4 linked regions of the Homo sapiens genome follow. The protein of the gene in region 3 interacts with the protein of the main gene of each other region in a pairwise test. Each region holds a gene or a part of one and is shown on either strand. Other genes may lie near its edges.

The links.
Region 1: the proteins of TFCP2 (region 3) and CDC73 interact in binary tests that used the Homo sapiens proteins (3 or more experiments, as listed by UniProt).
Region 2: the proteins of TFCP2 (region 3) and TDRD1 interact in binary tests that used the Homo sapiens proteins (3 or more experiments, as listed by UniProt).
Region 4: the proteins of TFCP2 (region 3) and E2F8 interact in binary tests that used the Homo sapiens proteins (3 or more experiments, as listed by UniProt).

The regions. Positions count from the first base shown.
Region 1 is NC_000001.11:193,125,031-193,128,530, reverse strand, and holds part of CDC73 (parafibromin), read right to left. Parts: intron 3,420-3,500; coding exon 3,314-3,419; intron 1-3,313.
Region 2 is NC_000010.11:114,213,853-114,217,352, reverse strand, and holds part of TDRD1 (tudor domain-containing protein 1), read right to left. Parts: intron 3,377-3,500; coding exon 3,239-3,376; intron 1-3,238. UniProt on the Homo sapiens protein: Plays a central role during spermatogenesis by participating in the repression transposable elements and preventing their mobilization, which is essential for the germline integrity.
Region 3 is NC_000012.12:51,110,636-51,114,135, forward strand, and holds part of TFCP2 (alpha-globin transcription factor CP2), read right to left. Parts: intron 349-3,500; coding exon 242-348; intron 1-241.
Region 4 is NC_000011.10:19,223,946-19,227,445, forward strand, and holds the end of E2F8 (transcription factor E2F8), read right to left. Parts: intron 1,920-3,500; coding exon 1,787-1,919; intron 1,671-1,786; coding exon 1,276-1,670; intron 896-1,275; coding exon 713-895; 3' UTR 118-712; downstream 1-117. UniProt on the Homo sapiens protein: Atypical E2F transcription factor that participates in various processes such as angiogenesis and polyploidization of specialized cells.

The DNA of each region.
Region 1 (3,500 bases), on a different chromosome or scaffold from region 3:
GAGTTCGAGACCAGCCTGAGCAACATGGAAAAACTCCAACTCTACAAAAATATAAAAGTTAGCCAGGCATGGTGGCAAGCGCCTGCAGTCCCAGCTATACTCCCAGCTACTCAGGAGGCTGAAGGAGGAAGACAACTTGAGCCCGGGAGGGTAAGGCTGTGGCAAGCCAAGATCCTGCCACTGCACTCCAGCCTGGGTGACAGAGCAAGACTCTGTCTCAAAAAAAAATAAAAAATAAAAATAAACCAGTCTATATGGAATATCATAAACAGTTAAAAGATTTGAGTTAATTTTAAGTTACTGTTTCTAAGTCTAATAACTTACATCATCATTTGGTCACTACTGAGTTATGTACACATCACAATCCACTGAAAAAGATTACATCTACTCACACTAAAATAGGAACTAAGGATCAGGAATCTGTTTTCAGAGTGGTCTGCTCAGCCGGACGCAGTGGCTCACGCCTGTAATCCCAACACTTTGGGAGGTCGAGGCGGGCGGATCGCGAGGTCAGGAAATCAAGACCAACCTGGCTAACGTGGTGAACCCCCGTCTCTACTAAAAATACAAAAATTAGCCAGGCATGGTGGCGTGTGCCTGTAATTCTAGCTACTTGGGAGGCTGAGGCAGGAGAATCCCTTGAACCCAGGAGGCGGAGGTTGCAGTGAGCCGAGATCACGCCACTGCACTCAAAAAAAAAAAAAAAAAAAATGAGTGGTCTGCGCACAGGAAAGAGCAAATAACACAAAGTAATTAGGAGACAACAATCTCGAATTCATAGAATTTTGGAATTTTAGAATCCTACTCTTTCAATCTGGCAAATACTTATGAAAAATGAGTTAAATCTTATGCAACCAAGGGTCCCAAGGTCCACAGTAACAATTACAGCTATCAGTTATATGCACAACCATTTCCCAAAAACAGAATCTATAAATCTAAGCCAACTATCTGAATCTTTGTTACACTAAAATGAATATATCCAACAAAACACTGTAAGAACTACCTAATTTAGTTTTTAAAGATCTGAGTTAAAATAACCTTAAAGACGGAGCTGGTGCTATTTTTTTCCCCTTATTTTCCCAAGTAGTCCCACTCTAATTTTATTTTTTTAAATATGTAACATAAATATATATTTCTTACTCAGGAAAGCAGAAGCCTTATGGTTTAATACAAAGCCCACTAAGTGACGGGATACTTTCTCAATTGCTATAATCACACACACACACACACACACACACACATTTTTTTTTTTTCCCTGAGACAGAGTCTTTGCTCTATCACCCAGGATAGATGCATTGGTGTGATCATGGCTTACTGCAGCCTCAACCTCCTGGGCCCAAGTGATCCTCCCACCTCAGCCCCTTGAGTAGCCAGCTGGGAGTATAGGTGCACACTACCACGCCTGACTAATTTTTTTTATTTTTTGTTTTAACAAAGTTTCCCTATGTTGCCCAGGTTGGTCTTGAACTCCTGAGCTCAAGTGATCCTCCCACTTGAGCTCAGCCTCCCAAAGTGCTGGGACTACAGGCATGCACCACCACACCTGGCTTTTAGTTGCTTTAGACAACAAGTTATTGTTTGAAAGATACATAAGCCAGAAACCTTAACTATTTCTAGTTGGGAGGGAGGTTAGAGTTATAGAAGTTAAGTTTCACACAGCTTAATGTGATCCAGCAACGGTGTTAGGTAACTCAAAAAGCAGCTCCAGTGATGACAGACACAGTGATATTTTAAAAAATTGTTTTAAGAACTATAAGAAAAGTTTAAGAAGATTGTTTTAAGAACTATAAGAAATGGGAAAAAGTAGTTATTTATAAATACATTTCATACTTAATTTTAAGTGTATACTTGTAAGCAAAAGCAACAAATATTAAAAGCAGACATTTAATTATTTCAATTATATCTTCAAAAAATTTTATGTTCAACTCTACCAAAAATAATCTGAGGGAAAAGCTCATTTAAAAAAATTAAATATCTTTTAGGCCATTTTATGTGGGCATTATAGTACTTTTCCATGTCATACAGCTATCCTATCCAAATAACTCTGAATCTTATTTACTTATCAATTATAATATACTGCTATAATTTAGGTCTTAATGATACTTCCCTACAGATGAAGAATCTCATCATCATAGTTTATGAAATTAGTTCTTTTCAAGTTGTTTCCAAATATTTCCTCTGAGTAATAAATTTTCAAACACTGAGAAAGCAAGCAAAACTAAAAACAAATGAACTTCTCCAGAGTACTAAAACAGCTGCACAAAACTGATTAAGAAACAATTTTTTTAAATGTCTGCTAATCTTAATCCTTACAACCAAAAAAAGTTTTCTTGAGATTAAACTAGAGTTCTGAAGTAACAGGGTCCTTCCACAGGCTTACAAGTTTTTCTAAACATCTCTATAAATACTTTTAGCGTTTCGGGTTTTCTTTTTCTTGAGATGGCATCTCACTATGTTGCCCAGGCTGGTCTTGATCTCCTAGGCTCAAGCAACCCTACCGCCTTAGAGTCCCAAGTAGCTGGGATTACCAGCGTGCACTAAGAAGCCTGGCTCTATAAATCCCTTTAAAACTTCCTTTGTTATAAACATTACCCACACTTTACATGAAAAAATATCACAGATTAAAAAGTCTGTGTAAGTCACACAGTCACCTAATTTTGACTCTCCTGGAGACACTCATACAAACCTTTCATTCTTTTGATTTGAAACCCATGAGGGAAGCTATCCATTCCAAATGATACCTACTACCACGAAGCCAAAAAAAAAAAAAATGTGTTAATACAAAAATTAGCCCGGCATGGTGGGCCATGCCTATAGTCCCAGTTTCTCAGGAGACTGAGGTGGGAGGCTGGCTTGAGCCCGAGAAGTAGAGGGTACAGTAAGCCGAGATCACACCACTGCACTCCAGCTTAGGCAACAGAGCCAGATCCTATCTCAAAAAAAAAAAAAAAGTTTTAAAATGAATTATTGGCCAGGCACAGTGATTCATGCCAGTAATCCCAGCACTTCGGGAGGCCGAGGCAGGAGGATCCACTGAGGGTAGGAGTTCAAGACCAGCCTAGGCAACACAGCAAGACCCCCTCATCTTTAACAACAACAAAAAAAATTAGCCAGATACGGTGGCACAGGCCTGCAGTCCTGGCTACTTGAAGGCAGAGGTGGGAAGATCACTTGAGCCTAGGAGTTCGAGGCTGCAATGAGCTATGATCACACCACTGCACCCTAGCCCGGGCAACAAGGCCAGACCCTGTCTCTTAAATAAATAAAAATAAAACTGATAAATAGATAGATAAGTAAAATGAATTCTACTTACAGCTGCACGTCGGACATAAACAGGATGAGAAAGGTGCACGTTATTAAGTAGAAATAAAATGGAATCCAATGTGTAGTACTCTCTGGGTTGGCCTTCCTTTCCAGTCCTGAAATAATTAAGGCAAGATTTTTTTTACTGACAATTCTAATTCAACTCTTCAGGCTGGATTCATTTATATAAACAACTT
Region 2 (3,500 bases), on a different chromosome or scaffold from region 3:
CAATAAACCCAACACCAACGATTTACTGGGCAAAAAGAAACAATTACAGCATGATTATCAGTACACTAAAGCATGAACTTTGCAGGGAGATAAGAAAACAGCATACAAGCCCATACAGAAGCTACATAAAAGCTGTCCTGAAAGTGACTATAATCACTAAATGGATGGCACAGGTAATGTATAAGAAGTCAGAGCTCATGAGCTCTGCGTGCTGGAGGTTTCATACAGAAATACAAAGTACATCACATTTGAAGGAGAGGGTATTTCCAGAAGGAAGACATGGCTCTCAGACAAAGGACAGAATTATGAAATTAGGCAACCAAAAGTGGGCAGCAGGCTAGCGAAGCGCAGAAGTGGAGAAGTGGCCACTGGAGAGAGACATTGGAGCTGTCCCTGCAAAATGCAGACCATGGAGAGCTTCTGAATGCAGAAGGGATCTAAACCACTTAGTAGTAGTAAAAGAAAAGCAAATGCCTTTTAAGAATGTGACAAAGGCTCATTTACTAAAATGGAAAATAAATTCTAATGTTTCAGATGTTTCACCTTTCAGATTAGGCTAAATAAAGTTTAAGGACACACAATAGACAATGATACACTCTGCTGCTGGGGGATTGTTTGGCTGGCCTCTGAAGAACACTAGCTCTCAAAAGCACAAATACACATATTCCTTTGACCTAATACTCTCATTACAATTTTAGCAACTTGTCCCAGAGATCTACTCCTAAAGTAAAAATCACAGTACAAGGATTTGTTTTAGTAATAAAAGCTTGGAAACCACTAATCCTGTATTTATCCACACTTAGTAGTGTGTATCCACACTTAGGTTAAATCTCACAACCATGGGGTCAGATAGGACCTTAGTTATCTAGTTTAATGTCCTTATTTAACAAAGAAAAACCAAGATTTGGAAAAGTTAAGATCAATGATGCTCATCAGAATGGCTCAAACAAAAAAGAAAAAACACAATGTTTGTGAGGATGTGGAGCAACTAGATGTTAACTTAGGTTAATTAAATTAGGATAAACCCACACAGTGGAATACCATGTAGCCATGAAAAAGAATAGAGACTAAACAGCAATGTGGTGTCACAGAGTGGCTCCTGAACAGAAAAAGGACACTAGTGAAAAATCTAGCAAAAACCAAATAAAGTTTGGGGTTCATTTAATGGTAATATACCACTGTTGGTCTCTTTGTTGCGACAAATGTGCCACGATCACATGCTAACTACAGGAGAAGCTGGGTGAGGTGTATACAGGAACTCTATGTACCATCTTTGTGACTTTCTGTATACCTAAAATTATTCCAAAATAAAAACTGTTATTTAAAAAGAGACTGGAGAAAACAGTATGTGAACTGATATCCAAAATGTAGTGGAAGAAAAAATGCAAAAATTACTTACCATTTTATACTGTTGATAGATATAGAAAAGGATTATATATACTCATACAAGCATATGTATAGAGTATCTCTGAAAAAATATTTGGAAAATTGAGAAGAGGAACCAGGAAACTTACTTTGCACTATATACACTTTTGAAACATGTTTTCATGTTTCCTTCTTCATCTTTAGAATTTTTATATTATGTTTGTATAATCACCTTTAAAAATAAAAAGGAACTTCAAAACTGTAAATTTTATCCTATATGGAATGGTGGCCTACCAACCAGATGATTCTGAATGAAGAAATGACAAATCTCACAACTATGGGGTCAGACAGGGCCTTAGTTATCTACTTTAATGTCCTTATTTGACAAAGAAAAACCAATATTTGGAAAACTTAAGATCAATGATGCTCATCAGAACGGCTCAAATGAAAAAGAAAACACACAATGTTTGTGAGGATGTGGAGCAACTAGATGTTTCTGAATCACTTCAGAAACTGGCCTTTGTAGATGGGGAAGCTGCAAATTTACATACCCTTTATGACCTAATAATTTCATTCCTAGGTTTGGACTCCATGAAAATGCCTGCACATGTGCACCAGATATGCTGTAATGTTCACAGCAACACTAATTTACAGCCCAAGCAAAACAGGCCAAGTGTCCAATGGTAGAAAGAAACTGCAATACAATTCACAGAACACTATGCAGCAAGGAAAAATAAGATACAGATACATGTAACATACAATGGAACACTATGCAGCAAGGAAAAACAAGGTACAGACATGTAACAATCTCACAGTGCAGGGGGCAGCAGCAAGGCTCAGAAGCTCGCATAGTGTGTAATTCCATTTCTAGAAAGTTCAAAACCAGGAAGAACTTATCTATGCTATTAGAAAGCAAGATGTTTACTTTTGAAAGAGAGAGGTGGCAGCTTGGGCACAGTGGCTCACACCTGTAATCCCAGCACTTTGGGAGGCCGAGGCAGGTGGATTCACAAGGTCAGGAGATCGAGACCATCCTGGCTAACACGGTGAAACCCCACCTTTATTAAAAATACAAAAAAAAAATTAACTGGGCGTGGTGGCACATGCCTATAGTCCCAGCTACTCAGGAGGCTGAGACAGGAGAATCGCTTGAACCTGGGAGGCAGAGGTTGCAGTGAGCCTACACTGTGCCACTGCACTCAGGCCTGGGCAACAGAGCGAGACTCCATCTCAATGAAAAAAAAAAAAAAGAAAGAAAGAAGAGGTAATGATGGGAGGGGATAGGAGGGAAACTTCTGGGATACTGGTAATGTTTTATTGCTTGACTTAGAGGCTAGTTATACAAGTGTGTGGAGTTTGTGATAATTCATTATGTTGTACTCCTATATACACATGTATCTATACGTTACACTAATACTTCAACACAAGTTAAATTTGTTTTTTGTTTGTTTGTTTGTTTTCCAGAGACACGGTCTAGCTCTGCTGCCCAGGCTGGAGTACACTGGTATGATCAAGCCTCACCGCACCCTTGAGTTCTTGGCCTCGTCATCCTCTTGCCTCAGCCTCCCAAAGTGTTAGGATTATAGGAGTGAGCCACTATACCAGGCCGAATTAATTTCTGTAAATGAATTTAGGAGATACTCTATGAAATGTAAACTAGTTTAAATATAAAGAGGTATTGTTGAAAATAGAAATAATGGCTTAAAAGAGAATAAAAGCTAACTAAGTATAACCAAATCTTTCTTGGAAATACAAATACCACTTGGCTCTTCTTGGAAAGAGGTACTTTTATCACTTAGTAACAAACTCATGTGAAGTTATTATCTATGCCAATGTATTTGTAAAAAGAAACAAATGACAAGAATCAACTTACCATCCTCTTTAAGCACATGGCAATAAAATTCTCCAGGACTATATATCACACAGACCACAACATCTACTGTTTGGTCAACACCAAGTTCAACCCATGTCCACTCCAATGGATTTACTTTTCCTTCCACACCCAAGGGAACTGTGAAAATAATTAAACATTAAATGGACATAGTGGAGGAGGGATGTAGCGAGGTTGGGGTGGCTGAGGAACCCGCTTTTGAAGAACTGAATTTCCACTGACTTTTTAAGTGCCTTTATAGGAA
Region 3 (3,500 bases):
ATGAAATATTATGCAGCCATTACCAAGCAATTTTGGGAGACACAAATAAATAAACTGGGGTATTAGAAGAGCAATTCAGAAACTCCTCAATGCTCTCAGGCACAGGTTAAAGAGCCTGGGCTTGACAGTCAGGCTAGAACCCTGTAAAGATTTCAAAGTTAACATGTTTTATCCTTTAAGAAATAAACTGATAGTAAGAGAGATACTCTTCAAAACTGGAACCCTATCTGCAACGCCTTACCTGAATAAACACAGATGTCCTCTTTGCAGGGTCCCACAGGAACTCCACTGTATTTAGTTGAGTTGGATTAGCCCTAGGATCGATTATACCCACAGACATCGGGATATCTGAGAAACAAAATGGTAATCATTGAACAATTTTGAGGGCCACTCAGTTTTAAATAAGAAAGCATTGATTCTTATATTACTCAATGTAGCTACCAAGATTTTTGTATATCACATCCTAAATTTCTTTGTTTTTTTTTTTTGTCGTTGTTGTTGTTTTTTATGGAGTCTTGTTCTGTTGCCCAAGCTGGAGTGCAGTGGTAACAGGCCTGGAGTGCAGTGGCACCATCTCAGCTCACTGCAACCTCTGCCTCCTGGGTTCAAACGATCCTCCTGCCTCTGCCTCCTGAGTAGCTGGGATTACAGGCCCGTGCCACCACGCCCGGCTAATTTTTTTGTATCTTTAGTAGAGATGGGGTTTCACCATGTTGGCCATGCTGCTCTCAAACTCCTGACCTCAGGTTATCCACCCACCTTGGCCTCCTAAAGTGCTGGGATTACAGGCTTGAGCCACTGTGCCCAGCCCACACCTTAAATTTCTTTTTTGTCAATGAAAATATTTGATTAGAGTAAAATTGACTTAAGTACTTTGCTTGAGCACCTTTTTTCCTCTTTAAAAAGTTTTTAAAATACGGCAATTAAAAAAATTATTTGGCCAGGCACGGTGGCTCACACCTGTAATCCCAGCACTTTGGGAGCCCAAGGCAGGCGGATCATGATGTCAGGAGTTCGAGACCAGCCTGACCAACATGACGTAACCTCATCTCTACTAAAAATACAAAAATTAGCCGGCCGTGGTGGCCCACACCTGTAATCCCAGCTACTCAGGAGGCTGAAGCAGGAGAATTGCTTGAACCTGGGAGGTGGAGGTTGCAGTGAGCCGGAGATCGAGCCACTGCACTCCAGCCTGGGTGACAAAGCAAGACTTCATCTCAAAAAAAAAAATTATTTTTAGGCCAGGCGTGGTGGCTTACACCTGTTATCCCAGCACTTTGGGAGGCCAAGGTGAGCGGATCACCTGAAGTCAAGAGTTCAAGACCAGCCTGGCCAACATGGCGAAACCCCGTCTCTACTAAAAAATACAAAAATTAGCCAGGCATGGTAGTGGGCATCTGTAATCCCAGCTACCTGAGAGGCTGAGGCAGAGAGAACTGCTTGAACCAGGGAGGCGGAGGTTGCAGTGAGCCAGTATTGCGCCACTGTGCTCCAGCCTGGGTGACAGAGCAAGACTGTCTCGAAAAACAAAAAAATCATTTTTAAATTGAGAAATAATAATTGTACATATTCATGGGCTATATAGTGATGTTTCAATACATATAATGCATAGTGATCAGATCAGGGTAATCAGCATATTCATTGTCTCAAACATCTGTCATTTCTTTGTGTTGGGAATGTTTAGTATCCTCCTTCTAGCTTAAAATATGGCAATTTAAAGGCAGTTTCCTTTTAATTTGTTAAAATCCTATTTAAGGTGGATTAAGTCTACACTATCATGAAAACTGTAATTTATAATCTATTTCAACTACAGTTTGAAAATTAGTTTCATTGCCAAAAGCACATTAAGAGTATTGCTATTGAAGGGGTGCAGCAGAGTGTCTATATGAAGGTAGAAAGCATTATATCATGAATGAAAGTGGGAAAATTTTAACATAAAGATTGATGCAGGCCAAGCGTGGTGGCTCACGCCTGCAATCCCAGTACTTTGGGAGGCCAAGGCGGGTGGATCATTTGAGGTCAGGAGTTCGAGACCAGCCTGGCCAACATGGTGAAAACTTGTCTCTACTACAAATATAAAAATTAGCTGGGCGTGGTTGTGGATGCCTATAATCCCAGCTACTCAGGAGTCTGAGGCATGAGAATGGCTTGAACCCGGGAGACAGAGGTTGCAGTGAGCCGAGATCATGCCATTGTACTCCAGCCTGGATGACAGAGCAAGACTCTGTCTCAAAAAAAAAAAAAAAAAGATGGTTGATGCTGACTTACCAAGTCATCAAATAATCCTATAACAGAGTGACAAATCTTTACTTAAAAGGGAAGCAAGAATTAATGGGTTTGAGTAGAACTTTTCTTTCCATTCCACACAGCAGATATTCAAATAGCATTCCCTGATTTCTCCTATTAATGATCAAACTGGGGAGTTAAGGCCAGGTAATATGTATTATCAGAACTGTGGTATTAACTATACTACTGTTTTGGTATCAATGATTCAAACAATAGAGCATCAAGTGGGTCCCACTCCACAATATTAGTTGTGTTAGATTCATCTTAAGGTCAACTTATCATACAGATATCAGGATCACTGCATGAGAACCAATGTTTTCTCAGGTAAAATTAGTAGCAGTTAAATTTTTCTTAACAACTATGTTTACCAAAAGGAAATTTTAACCAATTAGAAATCAGAGAGGCAGACACCATGAAAAGTGACTGCATGTGTATTTGTGAAGATCTTTCCTTTATACCCTATGACTTAGGAAAAACAAATTCTACTCTGTGTAGCAACGTGGGAAGACACAACTTAACTGCAAACCAAGTGACATAGCTTCTAATACCAGAACTCCCACTTTATAGTGCCTGGTTCTCAGGCACTAGTAAAATGAAGGAACTTTCAGCATGCTGGGGAAAAAAGTCTGCCCCTCTTTACAAACGCAAAACAAAATATCAGATCCTGAGCAGCCAAAACAATCGTGAAATAGAACAAAGTTGGAGTTCTCATGCTTCACGACTTCCAAACTGACTATAAAGCTACACTTAGCAAAATAGTGAGGTATAGGCATAAAGACAGACATTTAAACAAATGGAATAGAATAGACAGCCTACAAATAAGTATTCAAATATATGGTCAAATGAGTTTTGACAAGGGTGCAAGACCATTCAGTGGGGGAAAGAACAGTCTTTTCAACAAACGGTGTGGAGAAAACTGGGTATCCACATGCAAAAGAATGAAGTTGGGCCCTTCTTTCTGTATATGGTTTACCATACAACCTTTTTTGTATATGGTTGTACCATATACAAACACGAACTCAAAATGGACCTGTGACCTGAATATAAGACCTAAAACTATAAAACTCTTAGGAGAAAACATATGGGAAAAGCTTCTTGGCACTGAATTTGGCAATGATTTCTTGGATGTGGCACCAAAAGCACAGGGAATTAAAAAAAATTAGATAAATTGGACCACCTCAATGTAAAACTTTAGTGCATCAAAGGATAGTATC
Region 4 (3,500 bases), on a different chromosome or scaffold from region 3:
TTTGCATATCTAATGGAACCCAGCATGGATACTCTTTACTAAGAATTTGCCTCTGTGATTAGGTAAATTTTAATTTTCTCCCAACAGTGCCCTAACCGGCGAAATGAAAATGCTAACTATATTTTAGAAAAGTTTTAATTTGAACAACTTATGATTAAAAATACATTTTATAAATAATTTTTCCATAGACTTGATTGAGGATTGTTGCAAACTTTACAAAAAGATACACTGCAACAACAGATTAAAGAAATTACAAAAAATATAGCTATACCCCTATTTAAAAATACAACATTATACATCACACAGCATTTTCTTTGTGCAAAATGTTTAAGGGAATGCTGTGTTAGGCATGTCAAGCATATTTGCTTAGAGGGAAGTAAACTTTAATACAGTTACTTTGCATAATAGTATAGGCATAGCTAAAATAATGGATTTTTCCCCCTAGAAGTTAATATATCTTAGAGTTCAACATTTTACTTTTATTTTGTAGGATTGAAAGCTAAACTTAGCTTTATACAAATATATGTGTGTGTGTGTGTGTGTGTGTGTGTGTATATATATATATGTATGAAAACAACTATCTGATTTCACATTGAACAAATCCCCAACGTATTTACAGTATTTTCAGAGAATGTGTTCTCCAAATCAGTCTGTGTACATTTTCTCTATTAAACAACTCTTTAGAAAATTAAACTAAGCCAACATCTGTTGATTAATGGACATCCTCTGTTGAGACTTCCAGTTTTCGCTGTGGGACAAAGAGAGTTCCTAAGGAGGTTTTATTAGCACCCTCAAAATCCATGCAGGATGAGCTGGTTGGCTTGGTGGGTCCACCTGGGGTACGGAAGAAACTTTCGGCCACTAATTGTGACCCTTTGGGTGTCACAGGAACAGGCTGATTGGAAAGAGAAGAATGGACAAAAGAAGTCAACCACACACAGGTACATAGTCTTACCAGACTTGGAAGATTGGGCTGGATGAATGTATTGCACATTGGGAAACTGGCGTATCTTGAAATTGGCGAGGGAAGCTTTGGTGAGTTTTACATTCTCAATTATTTTTGTTAGGGGAGAGACAAAAATCTCATGATAACCCAACAATATGGATGCCTTGGACACTCTTCCTGGGTTCTGGAAGAAACATAGGCCTTCAATCTCCTGACTTTCCCATCCTTTCCCTCTCCAAAGAGGAAAAGCAAAAGCCAATCTCTTATGACACAGATACTTGGGGCTTAGTAATTCCAGGAAAAATTAAATTAAGTAGAAAGCCTCTCACCTGTTGTGCCCCTGTCACAGCAACTGATTGTCCATTTGGCTGGCTCTGGCCTGGGACTGGTGAGTCATAGTTGGTGGCCCTTCCTTGCTGAGTGCCTGCATTTTCTGGTGCGACATTAACAGACTCTATTCTTGGAGACACAGGAACGATTCCAGACCCAGGGCTGGCAGACAACTGCACATTGGGTGAGATGAGTCCCAGGTGCTGCAGGGTGAAGTTTACAATGGCTGAGCTTGGGTTCTGGATGGGAACAGGGTGGCTTGAAGCGAGAGCCGGGCTGTTCCCGACAGGTACGGCTGCCACGGAAGTTGGTGAGACCATTAGCTTCAACGGTGTTACATGAAAAGAGGGAAAATTAACAGCAGTGAGTTCAGATGATGTCACTGGAATAACACCTGGAAGGAAAAGGGGGAAGATATCTTAAAAGCACAGGCATTTATCCAAGAAGTTGACAAGGCTTAAGTGAACTTGAGACCGGCCCACATCTGGTTAGTGTTTTATGTGCACTCACCTGCAATTGGGGAGCTGTAAATCCTGTGGTTTGGGGAAAGAGCACTTGAGTTTTCTTTACCAGACAAAATGGACTCTGCCCCCAGGGATGAGCACTGCGTGAGAGGGATTAGGTATCCTGATGGGAACAAGGTCTAGAAAACAAGGAGGAAGGGTTTATTTTACACACAAATACAGGAAGAAAAATGGCCACGTGCCTCTTTCAGGACTAATATCCCTTGGTGGTTGCCTCATTGGACCAAAGCCTCCAGCGGAGTGGGCTGCAGGCAGGCTGGTCACCTGGCTCCTAGAGGAGAATACCCTCCCACCCTTCCCAATGCTTGCCCCGAATAATGCAGAACATGTTTCTTAAATGCCACCTGTGGTCTTAGGACACCTTTGGATGATGGCACTGACCCTGCTTAGGGGTAAGGATTCATCCAGCACACCACTCTTAAACTGATAACTTAACTCTTGCTACTGGACTCCTTGGTATGATGTAGTAGTAATTGATTGTTCTTGAATTATGTAGAACGGTATTTCCCAAAGGGCATTCTGAGGGACCTGAGGTCCATGGGTTGCAAACAGGCATTACCTGATTCTTGGTCAAATATAATTGGAAAATACTGAATTAAACAAAGTCAAATGGTGTCTTTATTAGAGAATTTCCAAGAGATTTTAATGGTGGCATGCCTTAAAATTCTCCAAGTGGGGCACACAGCAGGTAGCATTTCCCAAACTATTTGGCAACTATATTTTCAGTAGGCAATTAAGGAGGACTAGTATTCTAAGGAAACACTTTAAATGACATTGATTTAGAGAAAGGGGGCTAAACTATTGGCCATGTGCCAATTCCCACTCCCTGCCTGTTTTTATAAATAAAGTTTCATTGGAACACAATCATACTCATTCATTTATGTACTGCCTATAGCAACTTTCCTGCTACAATGGCAGAGTTGACTAGGTGCAACAGAGCCCATATGGCCTTAAAACCCAAAAAATGTCTACTATCTGGCCCTTTAAAGAACGTTTGCTGGCCCCTGATTTAAAACAGAAATTATATAAGTAAAGATTTCTTTCTAGTACTGCTTGCTCTAATGATAACAAGCAGTCTTAAAATACGCAAAGTACACCAGAGTTAAAAAAATTACAAATAAGAGAACTGATTAATTCATATTAGAGACGCACATGCCATTGAGCAAAAGCTTTAGGCAATAAAGTTATATTGCAACTAGAAAAGGCCCAAGGGTAGGGTTGCATGTACCTCCCAACATGCCTATTAGATCACTGTACTTTCCCAAACAGAAAAAGTTTACACGGGTGCCTGAACTGCATGAAAAGTCTGCTTTAGCCTTACCATGAGCGGGACTGGCAAAAGCTAAAAACCGCTCTTATAAACTAGGGACCTCCTTTTTTCTTCCTTCAGACCTTTCTTCTCTCCATTGTCAAAACAAGTTTAATCTAGTTGTTAATAGGTCTTTTCCTTGGGAACCAGGAAATTCAGAATCCACAAAGCTAAAAGTATACTACAAGCTTTTAATTTTGTTTCTTAAGTACTTGGTCCCACTCAAAATCTCTACTAGTAGGTGCCTTGAAAACTGCAGGAAGAGAGAATTTTTAAGGGGCAAATTTAGGTGCTTTATGAAGACCTGCGCTCTATTAGCTTTAGTTATATTCTCTCATGGTACAAATTATTCTGACTGCTGGTTTAACTCTTTCAAGTCTTCAGTAAAACC